Linked DNA regions of Homo sapiens. Changing the gene in region 1 together with any one later gene gives a genetic interaction. Each region holds a gene or a part of one and is shown in the gene's direction. Other genes may lie near its edges.

Region 1 (7,021 bases):
CTTGAAAACTGGAGATAATGTAATAACAACAATAATAGTCATGATGCAAGTAACTACAATTATTCAATTCCTGCTATGTATTAAGTAATTCTATATGGTGTCTTAGCTATTATTATCTTCTTTAACCTGAAAACAACCTTCCCAGACAAGCCTTCTCATATTGTCTTTACATGAGGACATGCATTGAGGACACTGGGTCAGAGAATTTGAGCAACTTGCCCAGTGTTCAACAGTTAGTGTTTCTGAACTTAAGCTTGGTTCTTCCAAAGCCCATGGTTTTCACTGTGGCTATGTCATCTTTCTTACCCAAATTAAGAGTGAATAAAGGAGAGGGTTTGAGAGGGCACCCCATTGGGCAGCTTTTCTGCAAAGTGAGGTTTCAATCACTTTTCAGATCCTTAAATCTGTCTCAGGGCTTAAAGGACCCTTGAAGGGACTTCACTGTATAGCAGCCACTTGGACATCCGTCCCCACCTCAGCTGAAAATCAATAGTGCAGAAGAAATCTCCAGTTCCAAGGAAGCCCTTTCCATGTTGAACAGCCGTAACTCAGAAAGTCATTGATTTCAGTGAATGAATTCAGTTTCCCTGTTAGTCCCACCCTTGAATACCCTCTGTGTCCCATGGAGAGACAATGGATTGGTCACGTCTCAATTCCCATCAACTGGGAAGTCTGGGTGATGGAGGTGCTGACCCTTGTCCTCTCTCCAGTGTTATAAACAGGAGCATGAGATACAGAACCAGCTTAACGGGGGGTTAAATGGCAGCTCTTCCAATTACTAGCTGTGTGACCTTGGAAAAGCTACTTAAGCTCTTCAGTTCTCTTATCCATAAAAATGGAAATAAAATTTGCTCTGGGCAGCTGTTGTAAGTATTAAAAAATAATATATGTAAAGCAACTGACATAAAATAATATATGTAAAGCTTTGGAGTCAGAGAAACGTAAGTTCCAATCTATTCATGTGACACATATCAGTCCCATGAACTTGGACTAATGTAATTTCCCAAAGCCTCCATTTCCTCATCTGTAAAGTAAATGTTATAATAGCACCTACCTTGAAGGGTTGTTGTGAAGATTAAACGATACCCAAGGGCAGTGCTCCAGGCATGTTAACTTCAATAATAAAGTTAGAAATGACTATTACTATCGCTTAGATTCCATATATATATATATATATGTTCCTATGATCCAAAATCTTTGCTTCAGCCAGTGTAGACAATTGAACTCACTGCAGGAAATCAGGCATCTAGTAGGATGACCAACTGAGCTAGCACTGAGCTGAAAACGGTGGCATTGTGGCACTGTGGCTTGAGGTCTCTGCCCAAAGTCATGGCCTAAAGTTCCCTCCTGGGTGCTCATTTTATGTACCCACCACTTTTGCCCTAACTCATCATTGCTCAGCTTTATAGTTGGTAGTGAAAGAAGAAAGAAAGAAAGAAAGAAAGAAAGAAAGAAAGAAAGAAAGAAAGAAAGAAAGAAAGAAAGAAAGAAAGAAAGAGGAAAAGAGGGAGAGAAAGAGATGGAGAGAGGAAGGGAGGGAAGGAAAGGAAAAAGGATGGAAAGAAGGAGGGAAGGAAGGAAGGAAGGAAGGAAGGAAGGAAGGAAGGAAGGGAGGGAGGGAGGGAGGGAGGGAGGGAGGGAGGGAGGGAGGGAGGGAGGGAGAAATAGTTGGATTAGGAAGAATGTGCCCAAAATACACAGTTTAGTTATTCTTTTGAAAATTCAGATTGATGAATAACAACTTAAAATTGTGGGAGAACCTAATTGGTTCTCACATTTTATATTACTCTACAATTTACAGAATGATATGACAGTACTTGAACTAATAGGGTCCTCTCAGCAATAGTGAAATCAAAAGGATTATTGCCCTCATTCTAGTGAAGACACTGAAGTTCAGAGAGATTGAACGGTTTTCCCAGATCACACAGCTTCGAAGAGGCAAAATGGAACTAGAACTCCAGCCTCTGGCACCTGATCCAGTGTTTTTCCCACTGCCCCACTGAAGCACATTCCTAGTATAATCTCTTCTATGGTATTAGTTACATCTTAGTTTAAAAGTGGGCACAAGGTAGTCTCTCACCGGGATCTGAGTATCCAAATCTGGAGTCCAACCTCTTCCAAGTTGATGTCACAGGGCTGTCCATTCTATCTCATCCTCGTAAATTCCAGACTGTCCCCCATTTCAATCTTGACCCACGATTTGTCTTTGACAACATAGTCATCTCAGGGACTGGCCCAGAGAGTCGTGCCAGGTGGTATGATGGAGATTGTGACCCAGGTTACAAACAGGGCCGAGTGACGGGCAAGCCTATAATTGTATCCCACCTTCAATGACCCTTGCCAGTACCAGGCAACGCTGATAAACAAATGGCCCATCCCTTGGTACCTTGCCAGGGTAAGCTCACATTCTGGGAGTGTCTAGGGGAGTGTTGGGACACAAGAATTCCAAAGCAATGCGGGAAGCTGAAAAGGTTATGTTCATAAGCCAGGACCTAACTGGGATTTCAAATCATAGCTCCTTAATTAGCACATTGGTGCCATTTGAGTAACCTAAAGTGAAGTGGGAAAAAATAATTTCTCAATACTGCTTTAAATTCCATCATATTTCCATGACCTTCACAATGGTCCTGCCCAGGAGATACTATTATCAACATTTTTTACCCGAGTTCAAGGTCGAGATTAGAATCCATGTCTCTGGATTCCGAATGCCTTTTTATTTATTTATTTACTTATTTTTTCAGATGGAGTCTCACTCTGTCGCCAGGCTGGAGTGCAGTGGCGCAATCTCAGCTCACTGCAACTTCCACCTCCTGGGTTCAAGTGATTCTCCTGCCTCAGTCTCCTGAGTAGCTGGGACTACAGGTGCATGCCACCACGCCCAGCTGATTTTTGTATTTTTAGTAGAGATGGGGTTTCACCATGCTGGCCAGGATGTTCTTGATCTCTTGACCTCATGATCCATTCGCCTCGGCCTCAGTCCTGGGATTACAGGCGTGAGCCACCATGCCTGGCCTGGATTCAGGATGCTTTAAAATATCCTCTACCTTTTGGCCTGTGAGACATCTTCTGTTTAGCCTCCATGGTTACATTCCCATCTTCAGAAATGGAACTGAGCATCATTAATAGAGTACTTACAGATTTATATTTTAAATTTCAAGTCCTGATGATATATGTCAGATATTTATGATCGCTTAAAAACAACCAGTGCTAGGATACATTAGTTTGTGAAGGAGGTATTATCTGTAATCCTATTCTCATTTTGAAAAGTATGCCTAGGCAATGAATCCACACACACACACACACACACAGATATATATGTATTTTTATCCCCCAAGAGGTATCTCTGTCTCCTATTAACTTGCAAGACATGCCAATGAAATCTCCACTGCAAATCTGAAATGAGAAATTTGACCTAAGGTTGTTTTCATTGAAAATTTCTATATCATTAATTTTACAAGTGTCGCTGCCATGTTCCTGGAGGAAATTTATTATATTTCTCCTCTATTTTGTATCATGCTGAAACTCAGGATCAAAATGAACATGAGCAAAATTATGTGAGTCTATTCTTTTCTAGAAAATGTAACATCTTTAATGAGAGAAGAATGGATTGTATAAAAAGAAGTTGGCTAAGAAAAATATCCCTAAATGCTTACTTTTAAATACACCTTGGTTATAAATGAGAGGGTCCAGCAATCTTAAAAATCTATTCCAGCCCTGAAAGTCTGTAGTTTAAATGGAGTCCAAAATAAACAAATTTGGGCTATTTTAGAGGCTATTTAGGCCTCTACGCCTTTCTGCTTGCTCTTTTCTCTGCATGACTTCATTAGCATTATTCCTTCCCACTTTTCTGTATCTGGTGAACTCCTATTCACCCTTCAAACCCCCATTTGAATGTGATCTCTTCTGTGACCCTCCAACAGTTCACTGCCTTTATCCCCAGACTAAATGTGGGGAGCCAGTCCGTCATTTGAGTTTCTGTAGCATGTCTCACAAGACTCTTCTCTGGTACAGAGCATTCTGAATCTTGTCTATTTTTCTCACTACAACATGGGCTTCTCAATGCCAGGGGTCACAAACTACTCATTTTTATAAGTTTTCCCCCTTTTGTCACTGAGTACTTAGTGCAGTACTTGACACATGATAGGCAGGTAGTAAATGCAGGGTGAATGAATGAATGAACGAATGAATGTGAGTTTTAATTCTAAGTCTTTCAACTCAAAATCCATTACTCTTTCTAGTTTCCTAAACAACCCGAACTACAGAAATAGAAAAACCACATGCTTCCATTTTTTAAGAAATTCTTATTTATTTATTTTAGAGGCAGGGCCTCACTCTGTCACTTAGGCTGAAGTAGAGTGGTGTGATCATAGCTCATTGAAGCCTAGAACTCCTGAGTTCAAGTGATTCTCCTGCCTCAACCTGCTGAGTAGCTAGGACTGACTACAGGAGCATGCCACCACACCAGGGTAATTTTTTGGGGGGTGGGGTAGAGACAGGGGCCTCACTATGTTGCCCAGGCTGGTCTCAAACTCCTGGGCTAGTGATCCTCCTGCCTTGGCCTCCCAAAGTCCTGGGATTGTAAGTGTGAGCCACCATGCCCAGCCCAATGTTTCCTTTTTTAAAGTTCTTTTCTAAAATTTTACTGAATTAGCAGAAGATCCTACTTCTGTGAGAGGAAGGATAGGATGTTCCTGGCTAACCTCACAGTTTTTCTAAGCAGGAAAAGCTCTTTGGGGGAATATTTAGATAGAAACATTCCTTCTAGACCTAGTATCAGGTTCAGTGGTCTGTTTGCTATTTACTTTCTGTTTCTTAGCAAAAAACTGCCTTTGTTATGAGACTGTGAGATACAATCCGGACCAGTTGACCCAGGAGGGCTTAGTGTTAATCGCCAACTATTATAAGAAGGTGACTGGCTTCCCAGAAGGGAAAGTGAAGGTCACAAGCAGCCACTCAGAATGGCTGGATAGTGCTCCATGTCATGACACACTAGGCTTCTTAGAAACCAGAGGATCCCAGTGAAAATGCAGCTCCCCTGGGCAGCTGAATTTCAGAAGTTTCATTTAACATCAATGGCTTATTTTAGTTCTGCTTTGAGGAAACTGAAAACTTGGATTCATACTAAAAACATATGCAGATGAGGACAATTATTATTACTATTTTATTTATTTATTTATTTTTTGAGACGGAGTCTCGCTCTGTTGCCCAGGCTGGAGTGCAGTGGTACAATCTTGGTTCCCTGCAACCTCCGCCTCCTGGGTTCAAGTGATTCTCTTTCCTCAGCCTCTCAAGCAGCTGGGATTACAGGTGCCCACCACCACACCTGGCTAATTTTTGTTTAGGCCGGGCACGGTGGCTCAAGCCTGTAATTCCAGCACTTTGGAAGGCCAAGGCGGGCAGATCACTTGAGGTCAGGAGTTTGAGACCAGCCTGGCCAACATGGTGAAACCCCGTCTCTACTAAAAATACAGAGGACAATTATTTTTTTAAATAATTTTCTTTGGTTAATATCTCTTAAATGTAATCCTGTGGTGAGGAGACAATGACAGTCCTGGGGCTGTGGCTATTAGCAGCTCCTTGTAGCTGAATGTCTCCAATGGTGCAGGAGGACATGTCAGCACCATGGTCTGGCTCCTGTTGAGCACTGTGAACTCTGTGGGACCTTCCTGCACATCATGTCGTTTGATTTTCTAAAGGACACTAAAGCAGCAGGGAAAAGAATAACTGTATAGGTGGGAAAACAGGTATAAAGTTAAGCTATGTAGTTCATCCTGATATGAACAGCAGGTAGAGGGTAGCCCTGAAAGCAGAAAGCAAGTTTCCAACTACTGACCTAGTGTAGTGCCAATATATCTTATAGCCTAGGTGATTATATTCTTAAAAAGGAATGTATGGATATGAGGAATAACTTGGAATAGGAGATTTTATATATTATTAATATGCTTTTCTATCAGCAAGATAAGCTAAGATTTTGCTACCCAAAATGTAGTCCACTGCCAGCAGCATCAATATTGCCTGGAGTCTGTTAGAAATGCAGAATTTCCTGCCTCTCCCCAGATCTACCAAACCAGAATCTGCATTTAGCAAGGTCTAAGGTGATTTGAGAAGCTCTTAGCTAGACAAGAAGAAAATACCATCTTCACAGATGATTCCCAGTTCTGATGGGATAATTTTTTAAACTTGAGATGAAAAAAAAAACGATCTTTGTATATACTTTTATGTACATGAAATTAGCCTATTCATTCCTTCCGGGAGCCCTGTGAGATACATAGGAATAGATGTTACTGAAATTTAACAGGAGAAGAAACTGAGTTCCCAAGTGGTAAAGTGATTACCCAAAGCCATCTAAGTGTCTGAGCTTATTTAATGACTAGCACACAGTAGCTGTTTGCTAAATGAATGAATAAATGAAACACTAAAAAAAAATTGGGCTGGATCCTGGTCTTCAGACCACTGCACTCTTAGAGATTGGTTCACTCCTGGGGCCACTTCAATGTAGGGTATTTGCTTTATGTCCCCTTAGACTTGACCTTGACCAGATAGTCTTCAAGATGCCAAACTGGGGCGGAGGCGCAAAATGTGGAGCCTGTGAAAAGACCGTCTACCATGCAGAAGAAATCCAGTGCAATGGAAGGAGTTTCCACAAGACGTGTTTCCACTGCAGTGAGTTGGGTGGACACCCTGGGGGCCCCTCAGCATCCGGACAGCATCACAAAATTCACATTGAATCACAAACACTGTATGCCAGTGGTTCTCATAGTGTGGTCCTGGGACAAGCAGCATCAGCATTACCTGGGAACTGGTTAGAAATTTAACTCTTGGGCTCCACCAAGAAAAGATGGTGCTCTCCTGAATACCCTTGCTTCAACTGCTTGCCCAGCTCAGAGGCCATTCATTTTCCTGTAGCTCAACGTCAGAACAAGCTAGCCTGTCACTGCTCTCTGTAGGGAAAACTTTGACCCCATGGCGACATTGACAACATGTGACTTGGCAGAGAAAGGAAGCCAGCACTTATCTGAAG
Region 2 (7,226 bases), 1.5 Mb from region 1:
AAGCTTAAAACTGTCAAAGCAGTTTAGATTTATAAGCCATAAGTGATAAAATATTAAATGTGTTTGGTAAGTTCAAACATATAACATTTACTTATTTATTGTAAAGGCAACTTGATGACAGCCCTGAGGAAGTTTTTAGAAACACAAAGCACAAAAAGCAAAGTTGTATTCACTTGTCTCAGCATCCAATTTATTTTGTAGTTTCTTGCTTATTCAGATTTGGGGAAAATCTAGATTTGCATAGATAAGTGGTTTGAATAGCTCACCTGGGAATCTCAGAGTACTCTTTAATTAAGTAGACTCATTCATTCATTTGCCCAAGAAATATTTATTGAGTGCCTACTATGCACCTGGCTTTCTGCTGAGCCTTGAGCAAGTAGGAAGAAGTATTTGTTTCTAAATCATCAATACAACAATTACTTACATTCCTCATTGTGAGTATAGTGAAAAAACAATAAGAAGACACATCGAGATGCCAAATCTCTCTATAGTATACCACTACAATATTGCAGCATGCCATGTATAATGCCCAGTTCAAGAGAACATGCCCCAGGCAGATGGGGTCTGAGCCTTTCCTGGGAAGAGCAAGTGTAATAGAACATGGATGTCTAATCATGTATGTGACTTCCCAGTTTTGAAGAAATTCAACCATCTTCATTAATGTCACAGTTCAAGACATTCAAATATATGCATAGAGATGCAAAGGGCGTGAGGCCACTCATTCATTCACTGGACATTTATCAGGTGCCTACTGTGTGACTGCCACTGTGATGGTTTTTGGAAATGTCATTGTGAACAAAACATCTTTGCCTTCATGGGGCTAAGTCAGTCATGAACAAACTAATGAAGAAGATTATAAAGAGTGGCAGTGCCTGGAAGGAAATTAACAGGGTGGTGTGAACCAGAGTATGGGGGGCAGTTATCTTAGAGGGAATGGTCAGTGATGTCCCAAGGAGGCAAGAAGATCTATTATATAAAATGCAGTCAATCTTGGGAAAAGCCCAGGGGATAATGCTATGAGTTTAGAGCAGCAAGGACAAGGCTCCAAGGCAGGATCCTGTTCAGAGTGTTAGAAGACAAGAAAGGAGGTCAGGCTAACTGGAGTAGAGCAATCAAAACGGATGGTGCCTCCAGGTGTAGTAAGAGACACAGGCTGAGGCTAGCTCATGCAGGGCCTGATAGGCCAGGGGATGGAGATGAGATTTTACTCTAAATGCAAGAAGCTGCTGGGGAGTTTGAAGCAGGAGGATGGCATAATCCCATTTACATTGTAAAGGTCTACTCAGGCTGCTATGTAACGAATGGATTATACTGAGGCTACAGAGGAAGTGAGGAGGGCAGCCAGGTTATTGTGGTCATCCAGAGCAGCAGTGTGACAGCTTAGTCCAGGATGGTGACACTAGGGATGGACTGACTTGAGACAGGTCTTAGAGGTAGAATGGACAGCTCTTCCTCATACTCAGACCTCTCCTTGGGAACTCCAGCCTTAAAAATCCCCCTGCCTAATCCACACTTCCATCTGGATATCCGATATGCATTTCAAATTTTGCCCAAACCTGGACACTTAATCTACCACCCACAAACCTAGTCTTCTCAACTCCATTCTTGCAGGAGTCATCCTTAGCTCCTTGCTTATCTCACTTCCCACATGCAATCGTGAGTAAATACTGCTAGCTCCATCTTGAAAACATATATCTAGAATTCAACCACCACTTTTCACCAGCTCCACTCACTGGGATTATTGCAATAGCCTCCTAATTGGTCTCCCTCCTTCTGCCCTTTCCCTCCAGTAACCAGCATGCTCCTGTTAAAATGTAAATCAGATAGTGATATTCTTCTCTTCCGCTCAAGCCCTCCAGTGAGATGGCTCAAGCCATCTCAGAATATAATCCTGTTTCTCTCTCTCTCACCCCATTTCCCACTATCTCTTTTACTCACCCTGCTGCAGACATATGAGCCTCCTTGCCATACTTTGAATCTGCCAAACATGGTCCTGCCTCAGGACTTTTGCACATGCTTATCCCTCTATCTGGCCCTACATATCTCCAGGTATCTGCTTCCAATTCTCTTCATTCAGGTCTCTGCTTAAATGTAGCAGAGAGGCCTTCTCTAATCACTCCATAATCTTCATCACTGTGTCTCCCTGCCTTGCTTTTTCTTCATAAGGCTTCTAACCTCCTGGCATCACATACTTCCTTGCTTATTTGTTCATTGTCTATCACCCTGCTTACATTGACAATGTAAGTGCCATGTAAGCAGAGTCTTGGTTTTGTTCATTGCTCTAGCCCCACACTTGGACTGGTACCTGCCACATAATGGATACCTAACAATATGTGGATTTCCGGGTGACCCCCTGCAGCTTGGGTGGGGTGAGGCCAGGACTTTGCTGCCTCTGCCAGGATTTAGAGTTACTGTCACTGCTGCTCCATGATGTAGACTTTACTGAATGAACAAATACAGGTGGGCCCTATGGAGTAAAGCGAGGTGAGTACTTCATGAAGGGAGACCTTCAGCACCACTACCAGCAGCAGAGAAGTGAAGAAGTTAGGACCCCAACAGAGCCCTCTGAGTTTTGTGGGAAGGGAGGACTTCTTAGGGCCCAGAACGGCCAGCTAGAATGCCTTCCAGAAGTTAGTGGGAAAGGCACAAAGATCACTCCTGCTTAAATTTCTGGTTTCCAGGAGGGGAGATCCAGGCAGGGATGTATGGCCAACGGAGATTCCTAGCCAGAGTGCTGAGAGGACTGTGTGAACTGCAGATTCAGGAAGAGGCTGAGAGACCCCCATGGGGGTGGCCGGTATGCTGAGGCTTGTATGGGAGCCAGATATCCCACATCCCATGGGGTGGTTGCCTCCTCCTGTTTCCAGCCTTTCCAGTGAGGCTGCAGGAAAGAGACACAGCTAAGGCCTGGAGACTCGTGGCACTCCGTCAGGGCATGGTACCACAGATGAGTTGTAAGCCTGCGGGACACAGCATCCAACTCTGAAAGCCCCTTGCTCGAATAACCCTACATCACCGCCTGAGGGCTTCCATATCCTTGGTCTCTTCAGACTGTCATCCCCACCACAATTACTCCAAGAAATTACTGTCATCCCCAAATCTATAACTGGAAACTGAGGCTCAGGAAGGAGACATGACTTCCACAAAATCACACAGTTGGGAAACTCTGGAGTCTGCACTCAACTGGTCTGCAAACCGCACTCTCGGAGACTTCAGGTGAGATGAGGTCAGGTTCTCAGGCCAGGTCCTGAAGTTTGACACCTTGGCGAAATGCACTTTCCTTGACTCAGCACCGCGAGTGAGGCGGAGCCAAGCCCCGAGCAGAAGGGTTTTCTTCCCAGCTGAAGAGGCAGCTCAGCCTAGACCCCAGGCATGGCACTGGACACCCCTGCTGTGGAAACGTGCAGATTTAGATGGAGGGGATTCCTAACCTGGGCAGGATCCGAGTTTGGAGAGATTGGCGCGAAGCTTTAGCAGCAATCTCCGATTCCTGTACAACCATAGCTGGGTTTCTAAGCGTCTAGGGAAGAAGGACTGGGCCCACGACCTGCTGAGCAACTCCCAGGTCGGGGACTGGCGGAATATCAGAGCCTCTACGACCCGTTTGTCTCGGGCTCGCCCACTTCAACTCTCGGGGTCTCTCCGCCTGTTGTTGCACTCGTGCGTTTCTCTGCCCCTGACGCTCTAAGCTTTCTGCTTTCTGCGTGTCTCTCAGCCTCTTTCGGTCCCTCTTTCACGGTCTCACTCCTCAGCTCTGTGCCCCCAATGCCTTGCCTCTCTCCAAATCTCTCACGACCTGATTTCTACAGCCGCTCTACCCATGGGTCCCCCACAAATCAGGGGACAGAGGAGTATTGAAAGTCAGCTCAGAGGTGAGCGCGCGCAGCCAGCGTTTCCCGCGGATACAGCAGTCGGGTGTTGGAGAGGTTTGGAAAGGGCGTGCCGGAGAGCCAAGTGCAGCCGCCTAGGGCTGCCGGTCGCTCCCTCCCTCCCTGCCCGGTAGGGGACCTAGCGCGCACGCCAGTGTGGAGGGGCGGGCTGGCTGGCCAGTCTGCGGGCCCCTGCGGCCACCCCGGGGACCCCCCCAAGCCCCGCCCCGCAGTGTTCCTATTGGCCTCGGACTCCCCCTCCCCCAGCTGCCCGCCTGGGCTCCGGGGCGTTTAGGCTACTACGGATAAATAGCCCAGGGCGCCTGGCGAGAAGCTAGGGGTGAGGAAGCCCTGGGGCGCTGCCGCCGCTTTCCTTAACCACAAATCAGGCCGGACAGGAGAGGGAGGGGTGGGGGACAGTGGGTGGGCATTCAGACTGCCAGCACTTTGCTATCTACAGCCGGGGCTCCCGAGCGGCAGAAAGTTCCGGCCACTCTCTGCCGCTTGGGTTGGGCGAAGCCAGGACCGTGCCGCGCCACCGCCAGGATATGGAGCTACTGTCGCCACCGCTCCGCGACGTAGACCTGACGGCCCCCGACGGCTCTCTCTGCTCCTTTGCCACAACGGACGACTTCTATGACGACCCGTGTTTCGACTCCCCGGACCTGCGCTTCTTCGAAGACCTGGACCCGCGCCTGATGCACGTGGGCGCGCTCCTGAAACCCGAAGAGCACTCGCACTTCCCCGCGGCGGTGCACCCGGCCCCGGGCGCACGTGAGGACGAGCATGTGCGCGCGCCCAGCGGGCACCACCAGGCGGGCCGCTGCCTACTGTGGGCCTGCAAGGCGTGCAAGCGCAAGACCACCAACGCCGACCGCCGCAAGGCCGCCACCATGCGCGAGCGGCGCCGCCTGAGCAAAGTAAATGAGGCCTTTGAGACACTCAAGCGCTGCACGTCGAGCAATCCAAACCAGCGGTTGCCCAAGGTGGAGATCCTGCGCAACGCCATCCGCTATATCGAGGGCCTGCAGGCTCTGCTGCGCGACCAGGACGCCGCGCCCCCTGGCGCCGCAGCCGCCTTCTATGCGCCGGGCCCGCTGCCCCCGGGCCGCGGCGGCGAGCACTACAGCGGCGACTCCGACGCGTCCAGCCCGCGCTCCAACTGCTCCGACGGCATGGTAAGGCCGGGACCCCAGGAAGTGAGGAAGTTAGGGCGGCGCTCGGGATATCAGGGACGCGTTTCCGAGGGCGGGGAGCTGGCCTTGCGGGAGGTTTGGGCCAGGATCCTTCCCGAGAGAGAGGACCCCCTTGTCCTGGGCAGCTGTCACTGGGGTAGCCTGTTTTGGAAGTGTGCGGGCAAGCGTTCGAGCTGCCCCATTGGGGGCGCTATTAGAACACTGCAGCGCGAACGTGAAGATCTTTTTCTCTACTTATCCCTACTTCCAAAATGTAAATTTGCGCCCCTTGGTGACTGTCCGCCCTTGGTTTGGCCCTGCATGTTGCAGACCTCATCTCCTACCCACCCGTAATTACCCCCCCAACCAGGACAGGTCTGGGCCCGGAACTAGAGCCTTAGGCTAGAGTTAGGGAGGGGGCGGCTACAGGAATTGGTGTTCGGGCCTCGAGCCGTCCCGCGGGCCTGACTCAGTCGCCCTTGCTGTTTGCAGATGGACTACAGCGGCCCCCCGAGCGGCGCCCGGCGGCGGAACTGCTACGAAGGCGCCTACTACAACGAGGCGCCCAGCGGTGGGTATTCCGGGCCTCTCCCTGCTCGCTCCTCCTCCTTCATGGAGCTGTCCTGGCCTCTATCTAGGACGCTCCCACCCCCACTCACACACGCCTATGTCCTGGGAAGTGGTGCAGGAGATGAAATACTAAGCAAGTAGCTCCCTGTCTTTTGGATTGTCCCGGACTCTAACTAAAGTCCTCAGTTTCCAATCTGTCTCAAAGTACTGGGCCCGGGGGTGGGAGGCTTGTCGCGGCCCCACCCCTGCTTACTAACCGAGCCCTCCCCGCGCAGAACCCAGGCCCGGGAAGAGTGCGGCGGTGTCGAGCCTAGACTGCCTGTCCAGCATCGTGGAGCGCATCTCCACCGAGAGCCCTGCGGCGCCCGCCCTCCTGCTGGCGGACGTGCCTTCTGAGTCGCCTCCGCGCAGGCAAGAGGCTGCCGCCCCCAGCGAGGGAGAGAGCAGCGGCGACCCCACCCAGTCACCGGACGCCGCCCCGCAGTGCCCTGCGGGTGCGAACCCCAACCCGATATACCAGGTGCTCTGAGGGGATGGTGGCCGCCCACCCGCCCGAGGGATGGTGCCCCTAGGGTCCCTCGCGCCCAAAAGATTGAACTTAAATGCCCCCCTCCCAACAGCGCTTTAAAAGCGACCTCTCTTGAGGTAGGAGAGGCGGGAGAACTGAAGTTTCCGCCCCCGCCCCACAGGGCAAGGACACAGCGCGGTTTTTTCCACGCAGCACCCTTCTCGGAGACCCATTGCGATGGCCGCTCCGTGTTCCTCGGTGGGCCAGAGCTGAACCTTGAGGGGCTAGGTTCAGCTTTCTCGCGCCCTCCCCCATGGGGGTGAGACCCTCGCAGACCTAAGCCCTGCCCCGGGATGCACCGGTTATTTGGGGGGGCGTGAGACCCAGTGCACTCCGGTCCCAAATGTAGCAGGTGTAACCGTAACCCACCCCCAACCCGTTTCCCGGTTCAGGACCACTTTTTGTAATACTTTTGTAATCTATTCCTGTAAATAAGAGTTGCTTTGCCAGAGCAGGAGCCCCTGGGGCTGTATTTATCTCTGAGGCATGGTGTGTGGTGCTACAGGGAATTTGTACGTTTATACCGCAGGCGGGCGAGCCGCGGGCGCTCGCTCAGGTGATCAAAATAAAGGCGCTAATTTATACCGCCGTGGCTCCGGCTTTCCCTGGACATGGGTGTGGGATCCGGAGGAAAATCCGCAAACTGGGCCAGCTGTCCCTCAGCGACGCCTGTAGGCGGCAGGCGGATTGCAAGGAGGAAGCCTGCTGCCTGGGGAAGGAAGGAGGGGTGCAAATTTCTCCAGTACGTGAGGAAGTTCCTCTGACCTTGACTACATTACTACACACGTCCGTGGCTCTTATGGAAGGGTACACAGGTTGATATGAGTATTTTTTAAACCCATGTCTGAGCTCGCCCCCTAGATATTCTGATTTAATGTTTCTGCCCCATATACCCAGGGCCAGGTATTGGTATTTTTTTTCAAAAGCTCCCCAAGTGATTCTGAAGTTCATTCAAGGCTGAGAATCATCCCCTCCATATAAAGTGAGTGAACCCAGGTGTGATAACCAGAAGAACCACGGGAAGGTTGTGGCCCAGGCATCACT

Evidence for each region. Genes that interact genetically often act in the same process or in processes that back each other up.
Region 2: of CSRP3 (region 1) and MYOD1, changing one enhances a phenotype caused by changing the other (phenotypic enhancement), as found in Homo sapiens cells (one study listed by BioGRID).

What each region holds. Positions count from the first base shown.
Region 1 is NC_000011.10:19,191,979-19,198,999, reverse strand, and holds part of CSRP3 (cysteine and glycine-rich protein 3), read left to right. Parts: intron 1-2,080; exon of another isoform or gene 2,081-2,287; intron 2,288-6,523; 5' UTR 6,524-6,551; coding exon 6,552-6,663; intron 6,664-7,021. UniProt on the Homo sapiens protein: Positive regulator of myogenesis. Acts as a cofactor for myogenic bHLH transcription factors such as MYOD1, and probably MYOG and MYF6.
Region 2 is NC_000011.10:17,715,366-17,722,591, forward strand, and holds MYOD1 (myoblast determination protein 1), read left to right. Parts: upstream 1-4,205; 5' UTR 4,206-4,417; coding exon 4,418-5,047; intron 5,048-5,536; coding exon 5,537-5,615; intron 5,616-5,889; coding exon 5,890-6,143; 3' UTR 6,144-6,771; downstream 6,772-7,226. UniProt on the Homo sapiens protein: Acts as a transcriptional activator that promotes transcription of muscle-specific target genes and plays a role in muscle differentiation. Together with MYF5 and MYOG, co-occupies muscle-specific gene promoter core region during myogenesis.